6 separate regions of the Homo sapiens genome follow, and all the other regions are reported to be linked to region 1. Evidence: microRNA targets listed by miRTarBase, many of them from high-throughput screens and not tested one by one. Region 1 holds a microRNA gene; each other region holds the end of a gene's coding sequence. Distances are from middle to middle.
What was found. Region 1 holds the annotated microRNA hsa-miR-664a-5p (ACUGGCUAGGGAAAAUGAUUGGAU, at 1,792-1,815, opposite strand). A microRNA usually pairs through its seed, bases 2 to 8, with sites in the 3' UTR of a target mRNA and lowers its output. Matches are read on the target gene's strand: a 7mer-m8 pairs with bases 2 to 8, a 7mer-A1 pairs with bases 2 to 7 and ends in A, and an 8mer does both.

Region 2: the mRNA of NONO is a reported target of hsa-miR-664a-5p. Seed matches in the 3' UTR shown: 8mer at 457-464.
Region 3: miRTarBase lists SLC35F6 as a target of hsa-miR-664a-5p. The part of its 3' UTR that is shown has no 7-base or 8-base seed match.
Region 4: the mRNA of FBXL16 is a reported target of hsa-miR-664a-5p. Seed matches in the 3' UTR shown: 7mer-A1 at 2,045-2,051.
Region 5: the mRNA of OTUD3 is a reported target of hsa-miR-664a-5p. The part of its 3' UTR that is shown has no 7-base or 8-base seed match.
Region 6: miRTarBase lists POLR1G as a target of hsa-miR-664a-5p. Seed matches in the 3' UTR shown: 7mer-m8 at 2,754-2,760.

Annotation. Positions count from the first base shown.
Region 1 is chr1:220,198,795-220,202,925 of GRCh38, forward strand. It overlaps MIR664A (microRNA 664a), which reads right to left and starts at 1,825; the gene lies at 1,744-1,825. It overlaps RAB3GAP2 (RAB3 GTPase activating non-catalytic protein subunit 2), which reads right to left. Exons shown (of 35, transcript NM_012414.4): 9 at 3,482-3,580. It overlaps SNORA36B (small nucleolar RNA, H/ACA box 36B), which reads right to left and starts at 1,882; the gene lies at 1,752-1,882.
Region 2 is chrX:71,299,675-71,303,805 of GRCh38, forward strand. It overlaps NONO (non-POU domain containing octamer binding), which reads left to right. Exons shown (of 12, transcript NM_007363.5): 12 at 268-1,494. The coding sequence ends at 402. ITGB1BP2 (integrin subunit beta 1 binding protein 2) reads left to right here and starts at 2,076. Exons shown (of 11, transcript NM_012278.4): 1 at 2,076-2,196; 2 at 2,463-2,512; 3 at 2,603-2,659; 4 at 2,737-2,882; 5 at 3,588-3,682; 6 at 3,787-3,842; 7 at 3,953-4,023. The coding sequence starts at 2,133. RefSeq lists an enhancer at 3,874-4,131.
Region 3 is chr2:26,778,035-26,782,165 of GRCh38, forward strand. SLC35F6 (solute carrier family 35 member F6) reads left to right here. Exons shown (of 6, transcript NM_017877.4): 6 at 8-3,197. The coding sequence ends at 477. Among named protein-coding and RNA genes, the nearest start is that of CENPA, 6.0 kb to the right of the region's middle.
Region 4 is chr16:690,894-695,024 of GRCh38, forward strand. It overlaps FBXL16 (F-box and leucine rich repeat protein 16), which reads right to left. Exons shown (of 6, transcript NM_153350.4): 4 at 4,099-4,131; 5 at 3,741-3,804; 6 at 1,607-3,530. The coding sequence ends at 3,382. Among named protein-coding and RNA genes, the nearest start is that of WDR24, 2.6 kb to the left of the region's middle.
Region 5 is chr1:19,907,333-19,911,332 of GRCh38, reverse strand. It overlaps OTUD3 (OTU deubiquitinase 3), which reads right to left. Exons shown (of 8, transcript NM_015207.2): 8 at 1-3,763. The coding sequence ends at 3,587. Among named protein-coding and RNA genes, the nearest start is that of PLA2G2E, 14 kb to the left of the region's middle.
Region 6 is chr19:45,408,853-45,412,852 of GRCh38, reverse strand. POLR1G (RNA polymerase I subunit G) reads right to left here. Exons shown (of 3, transcript NM_012099.3): 3 at 2,116-4,000. The coding sequence ends at 3,352. ERCC1 (ERCC excision repair 1, endonuclease non-catalytic subunit) reads left to right here. Exons shown (of 10, transcript NM_001983.4): 10 at 3,128-4,000. The coding sequence ends at 3,178. Among named protein-coding and RNA genes, the nearest start is that of POLR1G, 4.2 kb to the right of the region's middle.

The sequences.
Region 1 (4,131 bases):
TTTGAAAGACATCAAAGTCCCTCTCAATATAAGTTTCCATAAAGTCAAACTCATTGGATAATTTTCTAGGCCTAGTAGAGTGACTAATGAAGGCCTCTTTGACAATGTGATATATAAGGAGACCTGAGTGAAGAGAGGGAGAAAGCCATGTGACTAGCTAAAGTTTTCCAGGCAGAGGGAGCAGTAATTCTAAATGCTCTAGAGTAGGAATATGCTTGCTGTGTCTGAGGAACACAAAGGAGATCTACATGATGAAACACAATGAACAGGGAGGGGAACCCTACAGGAGACAGTGTCAGAGGTACCATAAGCCAGATAAAGTTGGGCCTTGTATGTCACGGTAAGGAGCAACCAGAAGAAGAAAGATGATGTAGAAAAAAAAAGGAGGAGCAAGTTTGACAGGAGGAAATTACTCGATTTTGGATATGTTAAGTTTGACATCTAGGTAGAAATTATTCAGTAGGGAGCTGGAGAAATGAGTATGAGGCTTCAGCAAGAGGTCAGGACTCCATAAAAATGGAGATACTGGGAATCTATTTCTTATGCTCCTTGTTTGTGATTTTAGACAGCAGGGGGTGAAAATATTTATTCTTAAGACTATATTAATTTGGCTTTCATCCTCACCATTCTACTGTAACTTTCATATCAAAAGTCAGTAAGTAAATAACTCCATGTTGTCAAATCCAATGGACCTTCTTCTTTTCTTGAACTCTACGAAACATTCCACAGTAAACCACTCCCTCTCAAATTTATATGTACATTCCCAGCTTCCTCCCTGAACTTCTGACTCTCATGTCCAATTCGTATACTTGATACCTCTACTTGAATGTTTAACTGTGTCAGAAGTTAACCTGTAAAAACGTAACTCTTTATTTGACTACCTTAAATCTCTTCCTCTCCTCCTCCTTATTCTCATTTCAGTAAACAGTCTCATCATCCAGCCCGTTGCTCAAACTTAAAAATTAAGAAACCCTTAATTCTTTCCTTCCTCTTGTTTCTCAAAACCATCCCTGAGCAAGTACAAAAGGTATCTCAAATCTGTCTACTTCCTTCCAACTCCACTGCCTCCACCATAAAGCCATCATTCTCTCTTGGGTGAATTATTGCAATAACTGGTCTCCTTGCTTTCTTCTACAAGCATCTCTCTACCCAGCAAACAGGGAGATATGTTTAAATGTAATCCCCTACTTAGAATCCATCAGTGACATCCACTGCATTTAGAATAAAATCGGATCTCCTTATCCCTACGTGATCTAACCCCAGTCTGCATCTCCAACCTAACCTTGTCCTGTTTTCCCCTCACTCTTTACAGTCAAGTCACACCAACCCCCTTTCTGTTTCTTGAACACTCTGAGGTCTTCAAGGCTCCCAGGCCTATATCCCTGATGCTCCTCTACCTAGAATGCTCTTCCTACACCTCTTTCCATAGCTGGCTCCTTCTCATCCTTCAAGTCTCAGTCTGAATGTCATGTCCTTGGAGAGGCCTTTCCTCACTAGTCTACCTAAAGCACCCTCTTCCTTTACTCTCTACCATAACCTACTTATTTTCTTCATGATGCCCACTAAGAGTTTGATATTCATTTAGTTTATTGTTTGTCTCCCCATCACCAAAACGTAAGCTTTATCAGGGTGGGGTCCTATCTTGTATTTCTAGCACAAATATTAATAGGTACTCATTTATTTGTTGAATAAATTAACCAGACCTCTACATAAAGATGTACATACAATAACGTTTATTGTACCTTTTTTCATTTTGTAGGCTGGGGATAAATGAATAGAATAATAGTTTCTATCCAATCATTTTCCCTAGCCAGTTTCAATGTTCCAAAGTTTAATTAACAGAGCAGGGAAGCTACCCTGAACTGAACTTAACACTTTGGAATTTTGCAGCATTTTTATGCTAGCAAAAAAGTAGACACACTGAAATGTTTACCAATAGGTTTTTATTACAGAGTATTCCATGTAAGAGCTATGCAGTAAATAGAAAGATGGCCTGTGTGTCAGATATCCTTAGCCTCTTTAGAGTCACTCTCCTTCCTCTTCTCCTTGCTCTTTCTCTCCCAGTGTCCAGTTTGCATAGAATGAGTAGAACTTGACCAAGTGAACAAACACAGAGGAGGCATTCTAGCCCACATGCACATAGATCTAGGGATAAAAGTGTATGGTGTGCTGGAGAAACAATAAGTGTGTCCTCCTCTGCTCCCACTACAGCTGGTCCCCTTGTCTGTTACAATTACTATGTTGTAGTATTGTAGCCATTCTCATGTGTTTCTTCTAACCAGGCTCCTAGACTCACACTTTCAGACAACAGAGAAGCATGTCTTTACATCTCTATACCCTCAGTACCTAACACAGTAAGCTCTCTTATAGTGGCTGCAAGAAGAAATCTGCTTTTATCTATATTTTACTAGTTTAAAGGTTACTTTTTTTTTTAAGCGATGGGGTCTCGCTATATTGCCCAGGTTGGTCTTGAACTCTTGGGCTCAAGAGATCCTCCTACCTCAGCCTTCTGAGTAGCTGAGATTACAGGTGCAAGCCACCACACTTGACCAAGGTTACATTTTTAAGACTGATTTATATGGTCATTATATAGACCAAATTTGTCTGTAGAAAAATTAGTCAAACAGTGAGTGACTTAAAACTGTACAATACTGTGGCTGAGGGCATAATTAAATCTTTATTAAAACTGCTACCATTTCTTTTTGTTTTTGTTTTGCTTTCTTGAGACAGAGTCTCGCTCTGTCACCCAGGCTGGAGTGCAGTGGCGTGATCTTGGCTCACTGCAACCTCCACCTCCCGGGTTCAGGCAATTCTCCTGCCTCAGCCTCCTAAGTAGCTGGGAATACAGGTGTGCACCACCACACCTGGCTAATTTTTGTATTTTTAGTAGAGACGGGGTTTCACTATGTGGGTCGGGCTAATCTTGAACTTCTGGCCTCATGTGATCCACCCACCTCGGCCTCCCAAAGTGCTGGGATTACAGGTGTTAGCCATCATGCCCAGTTTTAAAGATATATGCCTATGATGATCTGAATCTGAACTAACTTCCAGATGTCTCACTAAAGGCAATGCATTTTTTCACATAAGAATAAATTTTGGCCGGGTGCAGTGGCTCACGCCTGTAATCTCAGCACTTTGGGAGGCTGAGGCGGGTGAGGTCAGGAGTTCAAGACCAACCCAGCCAACATGATGAAATCCCGTCTCTATTAAAAATACAAAAATCAGCCAGGCGGGGTGGCGCATGCTTGTAATCTCAGCTACTTGGGAGGCTGAGGTGGGAGGATCACTTGATCCTGGAAGGTGGAGGTTGCAGTGAGCTGAGATCATGCCACTGCACTCCTGCCTGGGTGACAGAGCAAAGCTCCATCTTAAAAAATAATAATAATAAATAAAGAATAAATGCCCATTTCTAATAAATGAGATACTTCAATAAAAAGTGTAAGAAGTAAATTCCAAGAGAATTTGAATTAGTAATACTTACCAACACTAGCATGATCAATAATAGTGTCAATATCTTGTAGACCCCATTTCTTATAAGCTAATGGTGGTGGTTGTATGTTCTCATTGCCTGATGCTGCAGCTACCAAAGATAAAATAAGACAATCCAAACTTATTATGGATAAAATGAAGTTTTACAAAAAAACATTAAAACCATACTAATTTGTTATTCTAAAATTTCAGCTAATAATGACACAAAGTAATGAAAACAAGGCATAAGGTGAGATTTATTCACACCAAGACAATGCACGTAAAATGCAAACATTTAAAAGACTAAGTTGGCTGTCACAAAAGATTCTGGAACACTCCAGTAATTAAAGAAGACTATTAAAAATCCTAGACTACTACTAAAAATCAAAGGGAATTCAGGCCGGGCATGGTGGCTCATGCCTGTAATCCCAGCACTTTGGGAGGCCGAGGCAGGCAGGTCGCTTGAGGTCAGGAGTTTGAGATCAGCCTGGCCAACATGGTGAAACCCCATTTCTAGTAAAAATACAAAAATGAGCCAGGCGTGGTGGTACATGCCTGCAGTACCAGCTACTCGGGAGGCTGAGGCAGGAAAATCACTTGAACCTGGGAGGTGGAGGTTGCAGTAAGCTGAGATCACGCCACTGCACTCCAGCCCGGGTAAGA
Region 2 (4,131 bases), not on the chromosome of region 1:
GTGCAATCTTGGCTCCCTGCAACCTCCGCCTCCCAGGTTCAAGCGATTCTCCTGCCTCAGCCTCCTGAGTAGCTGGGATTACAGGCATGCGCCACCACTTTTGGGGTTATCCACTAGAGTTCTAAACAGACTTAGTCACCCACTCCTACCTACCATCAGGAGCCTTGAATAGTTGAATGGAAATAGCCTCCAGTGGAGGGACTACAGATGGGTGGGAAGCTTCCAACAATGGCTCTGTTACAGTGTTGCTCTCTTTTTCTCTTTAAGACCCCACCAACAACTGAACGCTTTGGTCAGGCTGCTACAATGGAAGGAATTGGGGCAATTGGTGGAACTCCTCCTGCATTCAACCGTGCAGCTCCTGGAGCTGAATTTGCCCCAAACAAACGTCGCCGATACTAATAAGTTGCAGTGTCTAGTTTCTCAAAACCCTTAAAAGAAGGACCCTTTTTGGACTAGCCAGAATTCTACCCTGGAAAAGTGTTAGGGATTCCTTCCAATAGTTAGATCTACCCTGCCTGTACTACTCTAGGGAGTATGCTGGAGGCAGAGGGCAAGGGAGGGGTGGTATTAAACAAGTCAATTCTGTGTGGTATATTGTTTAATCAGTTCTGTGTGGTGCATTCCTGAAGTCTCTAATGTGACTGTTGAGGGCCTGGGGAAACCATGGCAAAGTGGATCCAGTTAGAGCCCATTAATCTTGATCATTCCGGTTTTTTTTTTTTTTGTCCATCTTGTTTCATTTGCTTGCCCCGCCCCCGAGACGGAGTCTTACTCTGTCGCCCAGGCTGGAGTGTAGTGGCATGATCTCGGCTCACTGCAATCTCTGCCTCCCGGGTTCAAGCTTGTCCAGGTTGATCTTGAACTCCTGACCTCGTGATCTACCCACCTCGGCCTCCCAAAATGCTGGGATTACAGGGGTGAGCCACCGTGCCCAACCTCACTTGCTTCTTATCCTTACACTCCCCCAGCCCCAGAGAAACTGCCACATACACCACAAAAACCAAACATCCCCCAATGACCTTAGCCCCATTGCTCCATTCACTCCCAGGTGAGAATTCAGGCAAACGTCCACAAAGGTCACAGGCAGCGTACATACGGTTCTGTTATACCCCATATATTACCCCTTCATGTCCTAAAGAAGACATTTTCTCTTAGAGATTTTCATTTTAGTGTATCTTTAAAAAAAAATCTTGTGTTAACTTGCCTCCATCTTTTTCTTGGGTGAGGACACCCAGGAATGACCCTTTTGTGTCTATGATGTTGCTGTTCACAGCTTTTCTTGATAGGCCTAGTACAATCTTGGGAACAGGGTTACTGTATACTGAAGGTCTGACAGTAGCTCTTAGACTCGCCTATCTTAGGTAGTCATGCTGTGCATTTTTTTTTTCATTGGTGTACTGTGTTTGATTTGTCTCATATATTTGGAGTTTTTCTGAAAAATGGAGCAGTAATGCAGCATCAACCTATTAAAATACATTTTAAGCCTTTTAATTTTCTGTGGTGTTTTTGAAGGGGAAAGGAGGGAGGGGAGTTATCTTAGGAGATGAGCAGTAGACTCTATAAAGGTAATCCTTTATGACCTTTGGATTACAGTATTGATCTAGACAAACATGGGGAGGAGGTGGGGATGAGGTGCATCAAATGGCTGGAGGGGTTGGCAAGGATTAGCGCTATTGATACTACATGGAAGTAATGATGGAGGAAAGCTGCCCCTCTGAAAGAGGAAGAAAATGGGCTTAATCCTCATCGAGCTGGGGGCGCGGGGGGGGTCTCAAAATTGGTATTTGTTTCTTAGCAGCTGCTGCTGTGTCCAAGGCTTGGAATTGCTGTGGTGAATCTAAAACTGTCTCAGTAGTGGTGAGCTGACCTCACCCAAGTTCAAAGCCCTACTCTGCCTGATCCTTTTTTCCTGAGCCTCAGAGCTAAAATGCCCCCGAGCTCTTTCCTATTGGCTGGAAAGACGAATTGAAGTTCCCTTGCCCATGTTAGGAGGTGTACGCCTCCTGAACTAAAGATAGAAACAGCTGGCCCTTCCAGGCAGCTAAAAGCCTCCAGACTAAGAGGTGTTCCCCATTCGGCAGCCAGACTCCTTGAAATACCCTTTCAGTAATCATTCAACCAACGCTTCCATGTCTCTACTCTGTCGTAACAAAGGCTGTGGGCAGCACTTTGACCCTAATACCAACCTTCCTGGTGAGTAAAGAATCCTGACCTGGCCAGGGGCTCTGTGTGGGTGTTGGGGACTGGTCAGCTGGGGGGCAGTGTGTTTGAGGAGCGGGGAAAGAAACTACCTGCCCTAGTTTAATTGGTCTGAGTGATCTTACAGCCTTTGCTGGCTTTTTTTTTTTTCTTCACATTATATGGGAAGAAACCATAAATAGAAACCCGGGGAAGAGGTGAAAAATGATACTTGGTATAGTTATCTTCCCTTCCTTGATAACTTCTACTGATGTCCACAGATTCCTGTTGCCATCACCCTGGGGTCCCAATCTTCCATGATGCACTTAAGGTGAGGAGTAGGTGAGGGGGGTTAGCAAGAGCATTTCCCAGAAGAGATAATACCCAGGAAGCTAAGCTGATCTGGGTCTCTTGTTATCAGGGTTGGTCCTGCTGCCGAAAGCGAACTGTAGATTTCTCTGAGTTCTTAAACATCAAGGTAAATTATTTATGTACTTGGATTCTGCCCCCAATAGAAGGATTCTATCCCTAATCCTATCTCCTTATCTATACTAGGGCTGTACTATGGGACCACACTGTGCTGAGAAGCTTCCTGAGGCCCCTCAACCTGAAGGCCCTGCTACAAGCAGTTCACTTCAGGAGCAAAAACCTCTGAATGTGATTCCAAAGTCAGCAGAGACCTTGCGCCGGGAGAGGCCCAAGTAAAGAGGAGGAGGCCCCTGGACTTTTCTTATTTTCATGTAGCTTCCTAGGAGTGATTAATGGGTCATTGAGGACTGGGAACTAGGGACCAGGGATGTGAGGAGGGCCAGATGTCAGGGTTTGGATGGTGTATATCCTGTGCCTTAGGGGAAATTTGTGTCTGGAAATAACGCCCTTTCCTCTAAGGTGGTGTGGGATGATGGGATAGATACCTGAATCAACAGAGTAGATAGCCCCTCACAAATACATCCTTAGTGTATAACACAAAAGGGATTGTTGAGAATGACTTCTCTTTCTAGAAAAGAACTTTAAGATAAATCTCATATCAAGAAAAGGATGTATTGTATTATTGGCAGCCAGGAGACTTCCCAAATTTTGTGGGAATAATAAGAGCAACAGAAGGAAGTCATATTAGGTCCACGATTAGATAAAGAGGAAGAGGATATGACTCAGTTCTGCAGAGAAAAGTGGTTAGGTTTAGAGCAACTGAGTAGATGGGTAAGAGAAGTGCTGGGGATTTCTCTAGGGTTCAGGTATTTGGGATGTCCACAGAGATGAAAATTGGCAATGGGGTTGCTACCCAACCTCTCCAACTCTGCCTCACTTTCACCAGGCTTCTTTAATTCCATTACCATCGGTGGGAGTGTTGGAGCTAGCAATCATAGCTAATGGGTCAGAACTAAATCACCACCCTTAACCCCTAGGTCAGAGTTGCCTCTGAAGCTGCTGCCGCTAAATATATCCCAAGCCCTGGAAATGGCATTGGAACAGAAGGAATTAGACCAGGAACCTGGGGCAGGTAGGTGGGTCTTTAGTAGGATCAACTTCATAGACTGGAATTTAGTGGAAGTGGCAATTGAGTGGGGGGATGGATAAGTTCCTGACTCTGTTTCCCTTGCCCAGGACTTGACAGTCTGATCCGGACTGGTTCCAGCTGCCAGAACCCAGGATGTGATGCTGTGAGTGAGAGTTTTGAGGGGCTCAAGCATATGGCTGAGGGATGACTGGGTATAGATAGGCTGAGTAGGATATACCTTAGAATGACCTGGTTCTACTTTATCCTTCTTAGGTTTACCAAGGCCCTGAGAGTGATGCTACTCCATGTACCTACCACCCAGGAGCACCCCGATTCCATGAGGGGTGAGGGAGGGGACTGGGTGGGCTATGAGGCTATGAGACAGGTTTCTCCTAATATTTGGTCATAAGATAATATTGGGGGTGAGAGAATTCAGTTGAATTATCTTCCTA
Region 3 (4,131 bases), not on the chromosome of region 1:
TCCCCAGGCCTCTTTGGCTTTGTGATCCTCTCCCTGCTGCTGGTGCCCATGTACTACATCCCCGCCGGCTCCTTCAGCGGAAACCCTCGTGGGACACTGGAGGATGCATTGGACGCCTTCTGCCAGGTGGGCCAGCAGCCGCTCATTGCCGTGGCACTGCTGGGCAACATCAGCAGCATTGCCTTCTTCAACTTCGCAGGCATCAGCGTCACCAAGGAACTGAGCGCCACCACCCGCATGGTGTTGGACAGCTTGCGCACCGTTGTCATCTGGGCACTGAGCCTGGCACTGGGCTGGGAGGCCTTCCATGCACTGCAGATCCTTGGCTTCCTCATACTCCTTATAGGCACTGCCCTCTACAATGGGCTACACCGTCCGCTGCTGGGCCGCCTGTCCAGGGGCCGGCCCCTGGCAGAGGAGAGCGAGCAGGAGAGACTGCTGGGTGGCACCCGCACTCCCATCAATGATGCCAGCTGAGGTTCCCTGGAGGCTTCTACTGCCACCCGGGTGCTCCTTCTCCCTGAGACTGAGGCCACACAGGCTGGTGGGCCCCGAATGCCCTATCCCCAAGGCCTCACCCTGTCCCCTCCCTGCAGAACCCCCAGGGCAGCTGCTGCCACAGAAGATAACAACACCCAAGTCCTCTTTTTCTCACTACCACCTGCAGGGTGGTGTTACCCAGCCCCCACAAGCCTGAGTGCAGTGGCAGACCTCAGCTCTCTGGACCCCTCCTACAGCACTAGAGCTAAATCATGAAGTTGAATTGTAGGAATTTACCACCGTAGTGTATCTGAATCATAAACTAGATTATCATAGTTATCTAGTTTATGAGTCATAAGCTAGATTTGATTCTTCAAAGAAGAAAAGTCAGTGAGCAAATTTAAACCAGAACTAAGCATTATATTTTCTTTTTTTTTTTTTGAGACAGAGTCTCGCTCTGTCGCCCAGGCTGGAGTGCAGTGGCACGATCTCGGCGGCTCACTACAACCTCTGCCTCCCAGGTTCAAATGATTCTCCTGCCTCAGCCTCCCGAGTAGCTGGGATTACAGGTGCATAACACACCTGGGTAACTTTTATAGAGATGGGGTTTCACCATGTTGGCCAGGCTGGTCTCAAACTCCTGACCTCAGGTGATCTGCCTGCCTCGGCCTCCCAAAGTGCTGGGATTACAGGCGTGAGACACCACACCCAGCCATAACTAAGCATTATGTTTTCTAAAACTTCTAAGATCCTCCCTAAACCCGTCTGGAGACATGGGTTTTAGCCCAGACTCTGCCTCAAACTCATTGTAGCTCCCAGCACATTACCCAGTTGCTCTGGGCCTTGGTGTTATGCTCTGGGAAGTAGATGTTGATGCTGTGGCCTTAGTGCCTTCTGGCCCCAGCATTCCATGGGCCTGTGATCTTGACCAACCTGAGAAAACAGTAACAGCCCATCCACTGGAAATACCCCTCTGCCCACAGCACCACCCTTCTGTGCTGTTTTTTTTGTTGTTTGTTTGTTTCTTCTTTTTGAGACAGAGTCTTGCTCTGTTGCCACGCTGGAGTGCAGTGGTGTGATCTCGGCTCACTGCAACCTCCCGCTCCCAGGTTCAAGCAAGTCCCCTGAGTAGCTGGGACTACAGGCGTGTGCCACCACATCCGGCTAATTTTTTGCATTCTTTAATAGAGACGGGGTTTTGCCATGTTGGCCAGGATGGTCTCAATCTCCTGACCTCATGATCCACCTGCCTCAGCCTCCCAAAGTGCTGGGGTTACAGGCATGAGCCACCACGCCCAGCCTTTTTTTTTTTTTTTTTTTTTTCTTGAGAGACAGGGTCTTGCTCTGTCACCCAGGCACAGCTTACTGCAGCCTTGAACTCCTGGGATCAATCAGTCCTCCTGCCTCAGCCTCCCGAGTAGCTAAGACTAACAGGTATGTACCACCATGCCTGGTTTATTGTTTTATTTTTTTGGCAGAGATGGGTCTCACTGTGTTGCCCAGGCTGATCTCAAACTCCTGGCCTCAAGCGATCCTCCCATCTCAGCCTCCCAAAGTGCTGGGATTACAGACCTGAGCCACCACACCTGGGCAACAGAGTGAAACCTGTCCCTGTTTTCCTGCTCTTACTCTCACCTCTGAGGCCTCCTCTGCCTGGAAGAGATTACAGGGAAATTCCAGGCAGCCCTTGTCAATTGTTTTTATGAATTCTTTACCTGTTCCTTTTAAAGACAAGGAAACTGAGGCCCAAAGTTCTAAGTTGTTTGGCAAATGGAGTCTCCTACCCTCAGCTCCTGCAAGGACCTGGGGGACCCCCAGGTCCAGCAGCCACATGATTCTGCAGCAGACAGGGACCTAGAGCACATCTGGATCTCAGCCCCACCCCTGGCAACCTGCCTGCCTAGAGAACTCCCAAGATGACAGACTAAGTAGGATTCTGCCATTTAGAATAATTCTGGTATCCTGGGCGTTGCGTTAAGTTGCTTAACTTTCATTCTGTCTTACGATAGTCTTCAGAGGTGGGAACAGATGAAGAAACCATGCCCCAGAGAAGGTTAAGTGACTTCCTCTTTATGGAGCCAGTGTTCCAACCTAGGTTTGCCTGATACCAGACCTGTGGCCCCACCTCCCATGCAGGTCTCTGTGGGGTCTTTGGGATGGATCTCCTAGGGCTGGGCTGGAAGCCTCATGTACTGTTGTCTTCTAGGTAACCACCCTGAAGAGAAGGGGTGGCATCAGGAACCGCAGGGAACCAAGCAGCCTTTGGTCCAGTGCTGCTCCTTGGAACAGTTGAGTGTGGCCTCAAACCATTCTCCTGGGTAGCTCAGTCATAAAACACCGAATGCCTGCCTCAAAATAGCCTCTGAGGGAAGGGAGCTGTTGACAAGTGAAGCCCTCAGGTTGTGTGGGATTCCAGCAGGTTATTACAGCTTGTGGGGGGAGGGAGGGTCCATTCCACCAGCTTTGAATCCCAGGGTCCCCTCAGCTTCACTGGGCCACAGTGTCTGTCCCAGGAAGAAGCAAATGGACAGTGAGGATGATGGAGAGACTACAGCTGCCTTGTCTAAAACCTGGGATCTTAAAAGTGTTATTTTGGCTTTTATTTTTTAAAAAAAGAAAAGGAAAATTGGCAATTGTATTAATCCATTCTCGAATTGCTGTAAAGAAATACCTGAGACTGGGTAATTTAATTTATAAAGAAAAGAGGTTTAATTGGCTCACAGTTCTGCAGGCTATACAGGAAGCATAGTAGCTTCTGCTTCTGGGGAGGCCTCAGGAAACTTACAATCATAGTGGAAAGGCAAAGGGGAAGCAGACACATCTTATGTGGCCAGAGTAGGAGCAAGGGGGCGCAGGAGGAGGTGCCACACACGTTTTAAACACCCAGATCTCACAAGAACACTCAAGAGGACAGTACCAAGTGGAATGCTGTTAAACCATTCATGAGAAATGCACCCCCATGATCCAGTCACCTCCCACTAGGCCCCACCTCCAAGATTGGGGATTACATTTCAATATGAGATTTGGGTGGGGACACACATCCAAACTATATCAGCAGTACTGGACATTTTTCATGAGAGAGAAGGGGCACAAGAGGATGTCTGGAGCTAGCCTCTAGAATGTTGGTGTGGAAAATCTCTCCAATGTTTGAAAAGCATACCAATTACCTAGTCCTCCATTCATTGTTCAAATGAAGAAACCCAAAAAGCAGAAGTAACTTCCCAAGGGTCACACAGTCAGTTAACAGGCAAAAGCCAGATGTCCTGGTTCTCAATCCTCGCCTGTCCCATTCTGCCACAGATACTGCAGCCAGAGGCCAGGCATGGTGGCTCACGCCTGTAATCCCAGCACTTTGGGAGGCCGAGGTGGGTGGTTCACCTGAGGTCAGAAGTTCGAGACCAGCCTGGCCAGCATGGCAAAACCCTGTCTCTAGTAAACATACAAAAATTAGCTGGGCATGGTGGCACAAGCCTGTAATCTCAGCTACTCAGGAGGCTGAGGCAGGAGAATCACTTGAACCCGGGAGGCAGAGTTTGCAGTGAGCCAAGATCACGCCACTGCACTCCAGCCTGGGCAACAGTGAGACTCAGTCTCAAAAAAGAAAAAAAAGCTTAAAAATAAAGATATAAACCGGGTGCGGTGGCTCACGCC
Region 4 (4,131 bases), not on the chromosome of region 1:
CCACCGCGCCTGGCCTGTTTTTTAAGTCTCAATTTCAGTATTTTAATGCCATCACCTATTTTAATCCCCAGGTCCATCATGACATCTGGTCATCCCTAGACAAGTTCCGAGTGCCCCCAGTCTTCCCCTCCTTCCTCACTCCTCGACCTCGGGAGCAGCCTCCCAACGGCTTTCCTGGGTCCGTCTTTCCCCTTTGATCAGAAACCCGCACAGAAGTCAGGCACCAGGTCTTCTGCCTGAGGCCTCTGGCAGCTCCCACTATGCTGTGAATGAACCCCAACTCCTGGCCTCCGCCTTCCCCTGCCCACCTCCAGCCATGGCAGCCTCCACCCCCATTCCCAGCCCACCAAGCCCTTTCCTGCCTCAGGGACATTGTACGTGCGTGCGATGCCTCCTCCACAGAGCGGACCTCCCTGACCACTGCCCTAATGGGCTTCTCCATCACTGTGGCCTCCACGGCACTTGTCACCACCCATTCGTTTGTTTACTGGTTGTTGTCGGTCACATACGAGTGTGAATTCCACCAAGGCAGGAATCACATTCTGGCTCAATCCCCACCGAATGCCCAGTGCCTGACACACCTGTTCAACCAGTTGCTCTCGTTCTTTTTTTTAAAAAACTTTTTGAGACGGAGTTTCGCTCTTGTTGCCCAGGCTGGAGTGCAATGGTGCAATCTTGGCTCACCGCAACCTCCGCCTCCTGGGTTCAAGCGATTCTCCTGCCTCAGCTTCCCGAGTAGCTGGGATTACAGGCATGGGCCACCATACTGGGCTAATTTTGTATTTTTAGTAGAGATGGAGTTTTTCCATGTTGGTCAGGCTGGTCTCGAACTCCCAACCTCAGGTGATCCACTCGCCTTGGCCTCCCAAAGTGCTAGGATTACAGGTGTGAGCCACCGCACCCGGTCTCTTTAAAATTTTTTGAGACGGAGTTTTGCTCTTTCGCCCAGGTTGGAGTGAGGTGGCGCAGTCTCGGCTCATAGCAACCTCCACCCCCTAGGTTCAAGCGATTCAGCCTCAGCCTCCCTAGTAGCTGGGATTATAGGCAACCACCACCACACCCTGTTAATTTTTTGTATTTTTAGTAGAGACAGGGTTTCACCATGTTGGCCAGGCTGGTCTTGAACGCCTGACCTCAGGTGATCCACCCGCTTCGGCCTAAGTGCTAGGATTACAGGCGTGAGCCACTGTGCCCAGCCTCAGTTGCCTTTTTCGACCTCTCTGTCTCTCCTGGGTGTGAGCCATTGTCTGCTATTGGTGCATTTTGTAATCTTTTGCGACATCCTTGTCCTTGCCTGTTACTGTGTATAGAACAGGGTTTATTTCTGCCTCTCTGGAAGGGTGGGCTAGAGTCTGGATATGTTGGAGGGAATATTATGTGTAGTGACTTCAGTGTTGTCTCTCCCTTTAAGGAATGGGAGGTCCTCTGCCTTCCATGTAGTCACTGCTGTTTCCATTCTACCATGTCGGCATCCAGCCTCTACCCCTTTGTTGCAAGAAAGAATAAATCTGATAAGAGGTACAGGAGAATCCCGAGACCTGGGATGCGCAGGGCAGATATGCCCACCTACACCGCTGTCTGGGGACCTAAAAACAACTCAGACACATGTTTTTACAACTTTTTTAATATATATTTTTATAAACAGGTCACGTGATAAAATAGCACAAGAAACACTTACCAAATATAAGGTTATATCTTCCGCATATACAGGAGAATGAGGTCGTTATGTACAATAAGAAAATGATTTTAGGGGTTGGTTGGTTTTGTTTTCCTCTCTCCCCTTAATTTTTCCTCCTACAGTCGTTGGAAATATCACAGCTTCAGTTGCATTAATACTTTGGGCAAATGGACAGCTGCCCCTCCCCACTAGGGGTTGTGGGGAGGAGGGGCTGGAGAAACTGGCTCCTGACCACTCAGCCCTGGAGCTTCCTGGGGCTGGCACTCCAGGGACAGGAAAATCTTTGGGCTGTTGATCTGTTTCTGATTCAACAGCATCTCTCTCTCTCTTTCTCTCTCTCTCTCACTCTCTTTCTCTCTCTCACTCTCTGGCTCTCTGGAAACTGGTTACTCTCTTCCAACCAGATAGGGAGTGTCCCAAGATTGGGTGTGGGCGCGGTATCTCCTGGGGCTCAAGGTTGGGATGGGAAGGGGTCCCAGCCCCCTCCTCAGCAACAGCTGAGATTTGCCAGCATCCCCCAGGACTTCCAAATGTCTCGGGCCGACAGAGCACGGTCAGAGCCCATTTGGGCAGACAGAAGTTTGGGAAGCTGGGGAGGGGTGAAGTGGGGGTGGGGGGGCAGGCTAGAAAGGAGCCCTCCCTCCTCGGGGTGTCTAGGGTGTGCTGGCCACTGGAAGATTGGAGTCGCTGACCCAGTGCTGACCCTGACCCTTGGCTGGGTCCACTCTGCAGACTCCACCTGAGGAGACCCACCCAGGGTGAAGCTCGGTGCCCAGGCCTGAACTGAGCCCGGCCGGGTGCAAGGGCTGAGGTGTGAGGTCGGCCCAGGCCTCTTCCCAGGCCTGAGGGTGGCTACAGCTCGAGGCTTGCAAGGTGCCTGCGCCACCCCTGGGTTGAGGCCGACCGGAGTCAGCTGGGATCACGTTAATGACTCCAAGCGATCGCCAGCCCTTCCGCCCTCTCCCTGCCCAATTCTCTCAGCCTGGCCAGGGACCAAGGCCGGGTTTTGGGGCGGACAGGGGACTGCCCCACACAGCGGCAAGGAGGAGGAGAGGCCGCGTGGGTCAGGCTGGATGGGTGAGGAGGTGCGGGTGGGGCCTGGGCTCTCGGCGGCGGGCCATGGCTTTGGCGGTGGCCTGTTTCCCCTGACACCCCTCGGAGGGCTCCAGGTATGGTGCGGTGGAAGATGCAGGAAGCCCGTGGGGCTCTTCTGGGCCCGTGTCCTGGGGGACCCAGCCCCCTCAATCCCACTGGGCCCTGCCCGGGATGGGGGGGACAGTGGGAAGACAGAGCGGGTGTGGCGGGGAAGGCGGTAAGGGCACAGTCTGGAGAGCTCAAAGCCCCCCCAAGGACCGAGCCCCGCCCCCCAAGCGGGAGGGCGAGCGAGTGATGGCGGCGGCTGTGGCTGTGGCGTGGCGGAGGGCGGCGTGCAGTGCGGGCACGAGGGGCATGCACAAAGTCCCCGAGTGTGCGTGCGTGCGTGGGGCGGGCCCACCCGCCGCCCCCCTGCCCGGGGCGGGGCTGGGAGGGCGGAGGGACCGAAGGTCGGGGAGGGGCTTTCCCTCGGCTCGCCCCGCCTCCCGCGCTGGGCCGGGGGCGCGGGGGCTCCCCCGAGCGCAAGGCGGGAAGAGGGGGCTCGGCGGCGCCCCGCGCCCCCGCCCAGGTCATGGCCGGGTTCCCGCGACCGGGGCGGGGGCCTCGCGCTACTCAATGACGAGGCAGCGGGGCAGGTGCTGCGAGAAATACTTGAAGAGCTCGGGGGTGGCCCCGGGGCAGTTGGTCAGCTCCAGCTCCTCCAGCTCCTGCAGCTGCACCAGGCCCGACAGCCCGGTGGTGGTGAGCAGCGGGCAGCCTGCGGCGGGGTCAGAGGGCGGCTCAGTGCGCGCGGCCCAGGGCTCGGGCGGGGACGGCCGGGCCGCGCCTCCCTCCTCCTCCGCCTCGGACCCGGGACTGTGTGTCCGCGCCGGGTGTGAGTTTGCACAAGGACCGGGCAGGTTGGGCGGGTGGACTAAGTGGGGGTGGGTGGTCACTGCCAGCGTCAGAGCAGAAACGGGGGTCTCACCTGCCAGAGACAGGAGGCGCAAACTCCCCAGGGCCAGGAGGTGCTTCAGCCCGAAGTCTTGCACCTGTCGGGAGTGGAGGAGCGACTTAACGATTTCCGCTCGCACCGAGGCGGAGGGCACCCTGGGGTCCATGGAGGGCTAGGCGGGTTCAAGCCCGGGGTTCCTCCGTCCCCCCCGGAGCCGGGAGGCGGCTGGGAAGTGCTCGTGGGGGCCGCCGGGACCCCTGCGTTCCGCTTAGGTCGGCTGCTGGATAGGGAGGGGCCCCAGACTCTCCCAGGATCTGAGTGGGGCCGGGAGCTCTCCCCGCGCCCCCACCTCCCCGCCGATCCCCCAATCCCGGGGCGTGAGAGCCGGTACCTGGCAGCACCATCGCAGGTAGAGGCTGCGGAG
Region 5 (4,000 bases), 200 Mb from region 1:
AGAACAACTGTCAAAGGCCCCGGAGTTTTAGCAACACTTGTTCTGAAAGCTGTGAATAATGAGAATGGCAAAACAGAAAAACGGCATCAGACTGAGTCTAAAGATTTAACATGGCTAGACAGAGCCTTGAGGTAAGAAAGTGAAGAGCTACGCATCTACCCAAAACGGGAGTCGAAGAGGGCCACTGACGCAACACATTAAAATCAGGAAGCTCCATTCTCTTCCCCCCGCAGAGATCCTTTTGGTCAGGGTAACTTTTAGTCACCTCTGACTAGGAATCCAAGTTTCCTTCAACTGACTGAATATTTCACAGAGGTAAACTGATAGCATTCTATGCTGACCCAGTAAAACCCAGGCAGAGTCTACAGAGTTTCTCAGAATTAGAGAAATTGCACATTGACTACAGGGACTCACTACTAGTACAGTTCAGCGCTGAAGTCCACCTGATGCTACCTGTGTAATATGTGAGCAACTCCCCGACTGAAGGTGGCCCTCCTCCCACCCCACCCCCGACAATCACATCATTTCACACTGAAGCAGCTCCCTGGGGGAAGCAGGGCAGGCATAATAAATTACCCATGGAGAGGCTCCCTCCCAGCCAGCTCCAGCTGCTCCACAAGGGAGATCCCACTTCCCAAGCCCTCAGAATCAAACTGGCATTGGAAGTGTTTTCAGAGCTTAATAAAGAAACTACAGACAACTTCGACTAACATTTAAAATTCTTTCTGCCACAATTTCTCAACCATACTTTGCTCCTGAAAGTGTATGTTCATTATTATTGAAAAACTAAATACACACATACATTCTAACTTTCTAATATCTCCTAGTGGCAACTACATTATCTAGAAGTTATGGTTCTATGCTGCTTTAATACATCTACCTCTCTAGTTCAAAGCTGTTGCCACTAAAATGGTATTTATTTTGACCTCTAAAAAAAAATATTTTCAAAATCCGTAAAACCTTTATATACCGTTTATAAGAGCAGTAAGCAGCTATGCACCACTGCTCCATCCCCTTTCTCCTGACCACACTACAAGCTACCAAGACAATCTCATGTAACATAAATCTCTGCCAGCCAAGATGTAACACAGAGGTTAAGACACATTCAGTTCCTAATAAAGAGTTCACAGGAGCACCTGTACTAGAGTAACAGCTGCTGACAACAGTCATCCCAGGACTAGACATACTGGGCCTCCACTCGGGCTGCCAGTGAAGGAATTTTCAAGTGCCCACTGAGGCAACTAAGCATGTTGATTCCAACCTTCTCATGTACCCAGTGAGACTGAGGCAGTGAAGTCTAAATTGAAACCATTAGCTAGAAGGTATCACTGAAGTTGGATGCATGTACCCGATTCCTAATAATTAACACACTAAACAGACCAACTGTAACTGAAAAGCTGTGAAACCAGTAGTAAAATTACTAAAGCCGTTTGATTAGTTTTTTAAACCACCATTATTATACTCCAGAAATGCTGAAGCCTATTACCAGAATTAGGTAATTTAAAAAATAAATGTTCCCAATATTCTTTAATAACTTTTTAGCAGCTTCTAAAACTTCTAAAACCCAATAGGGCCCAAGGCCACCTTCATTAACCAAGTAAATAAAGCAATTCTACTACTTCTGACAATAAGTCTCTCTTAAGCTGACTGCTAATCTGAATTTCTGGCATACAATCTTATCTTTCTGAGAGGATCTGGCCTCTGCACTCAAGCAGTACAAAACAGACAGGAAAACATCTTCATTCAGAAACACTCAGCCAGTCAGGAATCTGCCCAGAGTTGAAAACCAAGACAACCATAGATCCTAACGCACTCGATCCCACTTCCTTAGAGTAAGGCAACAGAGATCTTTCATTCGTTTGGAATGAGTAGAGTAACACAGCCTCAAGCTCAGGACTCTGCGACGTGCACAGAAAAAAAATGCTGTGTACTTTTTTTAATCTGCTAAATTTTACAATGTACTGTACCCAGGAAGAAACCTAAACCACAATGTCCTAGGAGCAATTCCAAGAGACTACTGATGCTCCAACTACAAAAAGCCACCAAAGTCAAAAACAAAACCAAAAGATACCAGTGAAACTGAAGAAAGCCAAAGGCCTGGTGATAAAGACAATCTGGCGACTCCAGGGCCTACCAAACATTTTAGTTTTCAATTTGCCTCCGAATTTTTATAATTCTGAAATGCGAGGGGTGGGGAAGATAACTAATAATTTACCTTTCAACTCAGCATCAATTATTTGCCCAAGTATTAGGTCCCAAAAGACAAAGATGATCCAAGATGGGCTGCCTCATACGTTATAGTTCTTAAGTTCACATCCACCTAACTCAGTTTTAGGAAAGACGTCTCTCCACTGCTCAAGTCTGTCTATTTCAGAACTGAAGAGTGATTCGAAGGCCTCAACCAAAGTATGTTCTCTTCTCTGCTGGTCCAACCTAAGTCAACCAACCCTGCTGGTCCAACAACTTCCAGCAGATGCTGGAGTTTTCCCAACTTTGAAATGCCAAACAGGGCTTAAATAAAAAGAAATAAATGTAGCATTTTATAAGATTTAATTTCCACAATACTAAGTTTAGCGACCTATAAGGTCAAGTTACCACGTATCTCTCTGAAGGCATCTAAGTCTACAACAGAAGGGAAGAAAATCGTTATTTAAAATGCGAACATGAAAAACCTTATTCTTCCAGGCTTCTCCTATAAAAACATAATTCTTTAGACTCCTCTTAGGCAAAACCCCAGGAGTTCGTCTCCTGTTACAACTATAGACCCTGCTCTACACACTATCAGAATTCCAGAACTGTATCACAAGCAGTAACATGCCATCTCCCCACTGTCAGGAAACAAATACCAAAAACCCAACACCACTATCAACTTCCCAACAAGGCCAGGCCTAATTAACAGTCAGCTGCATTTATCATATGGCTTGAGTGCAAATGAACTAACAGCACCTGCATCCCATCTGAAATAACATCAGAATCAGGAAGGAGAGAAATGCGGTTAATTTCCATCCTGACTGCAGGCCACAACCCTCACGTAACTTTGGGAAAACAATTCCTGAATTATTTTCTGAGTAACTTGGATTAGAAGTAAATCAAAGCATATTCCTGAGTTGGAGATCATTTATAAGCTACCCTATATATCTGTTTGAGAATGAAAGAGAAACTAAGGAAACTTGTCATTCTGAATTTCTAACAATTATTCTAAACTACTCATGAACAATTACAGCAAAACTCACCCCAAATGTTAAGGAAAGATCCTAGGGTCACTGAAGTCTGATTTTCAGGGCAAATAAAGCCACCACTTAAAAGGTTTTTCCTGACCTAACTATCTGCCCCTAAAACTCAGTATTTTAATTTTGTATTACAGAATATGAATGGCCTCACTGCATTTTCATAAAACACCAACATATCACTAATAAAACTTCGAACAAAAAAAGAGGCAGCTTGAACGAAACTAACTCAGTGTGTGAGCTCATGTGTGGGCTTCGTTGGTTGTGTTGCGTTTTATAAAAGGACGGCCTCACTGGAAAGTCTAGCACACAGCAATCCTTTTCCAGCCGCTTCTTACAACTCCCAAGAGGCCAAAGAGTCAGATGTTGAGAGCGGCGAAGGTCTTCACCAAGGTGACCTGCGTGTTCGCCTCTGCTTCGCTTCTGTTATTGTCCCTGTGGCTACCTCTGCTCTCCAGGGCTTTGTGGCGGTGCCTCTCCTCCTGCCGCTTCTTCTTCTCCATCCACTGCTGTTCTCGCCTCTGTTTGTTTGTGACCTGAGAGAGAAGGCCATGGTGGTGAGTAGGAAGCACGGGGGACTCAAGCTGCCACCTGCTAGAAGGGAGATGGTGGCAAAGGGCACAGATTGCTTTTCAGCAGGAACAGGGAAAACCAATCTAAGACGCCAAAGATGATTTACTGTCCACTGCTGCTCAAATTTGCATTTAAATTTATATTTCCTTGCTGAACTAGCAAACAAAATCAATTCCATTCTTCTCTTAAAGAAACCAGCC
Region 6 (4,000 bases), not on the chromosome of region 1:
CAGGACAATCGTTTGAACCCGGGAGGTGGAGGTTGCAGTGAGCCAAGATAGCGCCATTGCACTCCAGCCTGGACAATAAGAGTGAAACTCTATCTCAAAAATTAAAAAAAAAAAAAAGAATAAAAGGCTTCTGCACAGCAAACATTCCACAAAGTGAAGAGACAACACACAGGATGGGAGAAAATATCTGCAAACTAACCATCTGACAAGGAATCAATAATCAGAAGATAAGAGTTCTAACAACTCTATAGGATAAAATATAATAATCCAATCAAAAAGTGGGCAAAATATTTGAATTAACATTTCTCAAAAGACATACAAATGGCAAGCAGGCATATGAAAAGGTGCTCAGCATCATTGATCATCAGAAAAATGCAAATCAAAACTACAGTGAGGCTGGGTGCAGTGGCTCATGCCTGTAATCCCAGCACTTTGGGAGGCCGAGGCGGGCAGATCACTTGAGGCCAGGAGTTCAAGATCAGCCTGGCCAACATGGCGAAACCCCATCTCTACTAAAAATATAAAAATTAGTTGGGTGTGGTGGCGCATGCTTGTAATCCCAGCTACTTGAGTGGCTGAGGCAGGAGAATCTCTTGAACCCGGGAGACGGAGGTTGCAGTGAGCTGAAATCACACCACTGCCCTCCAGCCTGGACAACAGAAGCAAAACTCCATCTCAAAAAAAACCAAAAATAGGCCGGGCATGGTGGCTCACGCCTGTAATCCCAACACTTTGGGAGGCCGAGGCGGGTGGATCGTGAGGTCAGGAGATTGAGACCATCATGGCTAACATGGTGAAACCCCGTCTCTACTAAAAATACAAAAAAAAATTAGCTGGGTGTGGTGGTGGGCACCTGTAGTCCCAGCTACTCGGGAGGCTGAGGCAGGAGAATGGCATGAACCTGGGAGGCAGAGCTTGCAGTGAGCCGAGATCATACCACTGCACTCCAGCCTGGGTGACAGAGTGAGACTCCATCTCAAAAAAGAAAACCAAAAACCAAAAATAAACTATAATGAGATACCATCTCAGCTCTATTAAAATGGCTTATTATTATTTTTTGAGATGGAGTCTCACTCTGTTGCCCAGGCTGGAGTGCAATGGCATGATCTCAGCTCACTGCAACCTCCGTCTCCTGGATCCAAGCGATTCTCCTGCCTCAGCCTCCTGAGTAGATGGGATTACAGGCACTCGCTACCATGCCCAGCTAGTTTTTGTATTTTTAGTAGAGATGGGGTTTCCCTAGGTTGGTCAGGCTGGTCTTGAACTCCTGACCTCTGGTGATCCACCCACCTCGGTCTCCCAAAGTGCCGGGATTACAGGTGTGAGCCATGGTGCCCGGCCTTAAAATGGCTTTTATCCAAAGGACAGGCAATAACAAATGGTGGACAGGCAATAACAAATGGTGGCGAGGATGTGAAGAAAAGGGAACCCTCATATACTTTTGATGGGAATGTAAATCAGTACAACCACTATGGAAAACAGTTTGGAGGCTCCTCTAAAAACTGAAAAGTTGAGGTTCCACATGATCCAGCAATCCCACTGCTGGGTATATCCCCAAAAAAAGGAAATCAGTGTATGGAACAGGTATCTGCACTCCTGTTTGTTGCAGCACAGTTCACATTGCCAAAACTTAGAACCAACCTGTGTCCATCAGCAGATGACCAGGCAAAGAAAATGTGGTACTTACACACAATGGATACTCTTCAGCCATAAAAAAGAATGAGATCCTGGCTGGGCGCGGTGGCTCACACCTCTAATCCCAGCACTTTGGGAGGCCGAGGCGGGCAGATCACTTGAGGCCAGAAGTTCAAGACCAGCCTGGCCAACGTGGTGAAACCTTGTCTCTACTAAAAATGAAAAAATGAGCTGGGTGTGGTGGCGCGTGCCTGTAATCACAACTACTTGGGAGGCTGAGGCAGGAGAATCGCTTGAATCCGGGAGGCGGAGGTTGCAGTGAGCCAAGATTGTGCCACTGCACTCCAGCCTGGGCGACAGAGCGAGACCCTTTTCAAAACAAAACAAAACAAAACAAAAAAAACATGAGATCCTGTCAATTACAACATAATGAACTGGGGATTATTATGTTAAGTGAAATAAGCCAGGCACAGAAAGACAAACATTGCATGTTCTTATTTATTTGTGTATCTAAAAATCAAAACAATTGAACTCATGGAGATAAGAGTGGATGGATAGTTCCTGGAGGCTGGGGAGGGTAGTTAGGGGCTGGCAGGGAGATGGGGAAGGTTAATGGGTACCACACACACACACACACACACACACACACACAAAGAAAGAATGAATAAGACATACTATTTGATAACACAACCAGGTGACTATAGTCAATAATAATGGTACATTTTAAAATAACTTGGCAGGGTGCGGTGGCTCACACCTGTTATCCTAGCACTTTGGGAGGTCAAGGCAGGTGGATCACGAGGTCAGGAGTTCGAGACCAGCCTGGCCAATATGGTGAAACCCCTGTCTCTACTAAAAATACAAAAATTAGCCGGGTATAGTGGTGGGCACCTTTAGGCCCAGCTACTCGGGAGGCTGAGGCAGGAGAATCGTTGGAACCCAGGAGGCGGAGGTTGCAGTGAGCCAAGATCACACCACTGCACTCCAGCCTGGGTGACACCAGGAGACTGTCTCAAAAAAATAATAATAACTTAGCCAGGCGCAGTGGCTCACACCTATAATCCCAGCACTGGGAGGCTGAGGCAGGCGCATCAGGAGGTCAGGAGATCGAGACCATCCTGGCTAACGTGGTGAAACCCCATCTCTACTAAAAAAAAATACAAAAAATTAGCTGGGCAGGGGCCTGTAGTCCCAGCTACTCAGGAGGCTGAGGCAGGAGAATGGCGTGAACCCGGGAGGCGGAGCTTGCAGTGAGCCGAGATTGCGCCACTGCACTCCAACCTGGGCGACAGAGCGAGACTCCATCTCAAAAAAAAAAAAAATAATAATAATAATAATAACTTAAAAAGATTGTAACTGGATTGTTTGTAACTCAATGGATAAATGCTTGAGGGTATAGGGGAAAATAAAGAACCAAAACCCCACTCTAGATTTACCCAGGAAACAGCTCCTTTAATGACTGGTTCCTCATTTTTTTCTCCCTCCCATCCAGGCCCGGAGGCTGTTTGATGTCCTGCACGAGCCCTTCTTGAAAGTACCCTGATGACCCCAGCTGCCAAGGAAACCCCCAGTGTAATAATAAATCGTCCTCCCAGGCCAGGCTCCTGCTGGCTGCGCTGGTGCAGTCTCTGGGGAGGGATTCTGGGGGTGTCACCTTCTGGTGGCCCAGGTGGGCACCTTCAGCTTTCTTTAGTTCCTCAGTTTCCCGGGGGCAGACTACACAGGCTGCTGCTGCTGCTGCTTCCGCTTCTTGTCCCGGCCTGTGGGAGCCTCCTCCCCAGACTCTGAATTCAGTGGCGGCCCTGGCATCTCCTCTTGGGGCACTGTCTCTGGCATCCGGCTTTCCTGACTCTGCTTCTTCCTCTTCTTGGTGGATCCCGGAGTTGCCCTGGCTTCAGGCTGTCCCTCCCCTGGCAGTTCAGGCTCTAGTGGCTGAATTGGCTCAGTCACTGTGTGACCTCTCTCTTTCTTCTTCTTCTTCTTCTTGGTGGATGTGGGAGCTGCCTGAGGCTCAAGGTCATCCGGCAGCTCAGGCCCCACCACCTCTGTCTCTGGCTCCACTGTGGCATCTTGCTGTTTTTCTTTCTTCGTCTTCTTTTTGGGAGCTGCCAGAGCTGCCTGGGCCTGAGGCTTCGCTCCTTCTGGCTGTTGAGGCGCCATGGTCCCCCCTGGGGACTCCAGAGGCTTCATCTCCGGCTCCACTGGCTCCATCGCCTCCGTCCCTGGCTCCATCATTGCCATCTGTCCCTTTTCTTTTTTCCTCTTCTTCGTAGGGGGCAGAGGGATGGCTTCCTCCAGTGGCTCCACCTTCACCTGTGGCTGAGACTCAACTGTCACCCCCTCCTCTGGCTCCATCCCTTCCGTC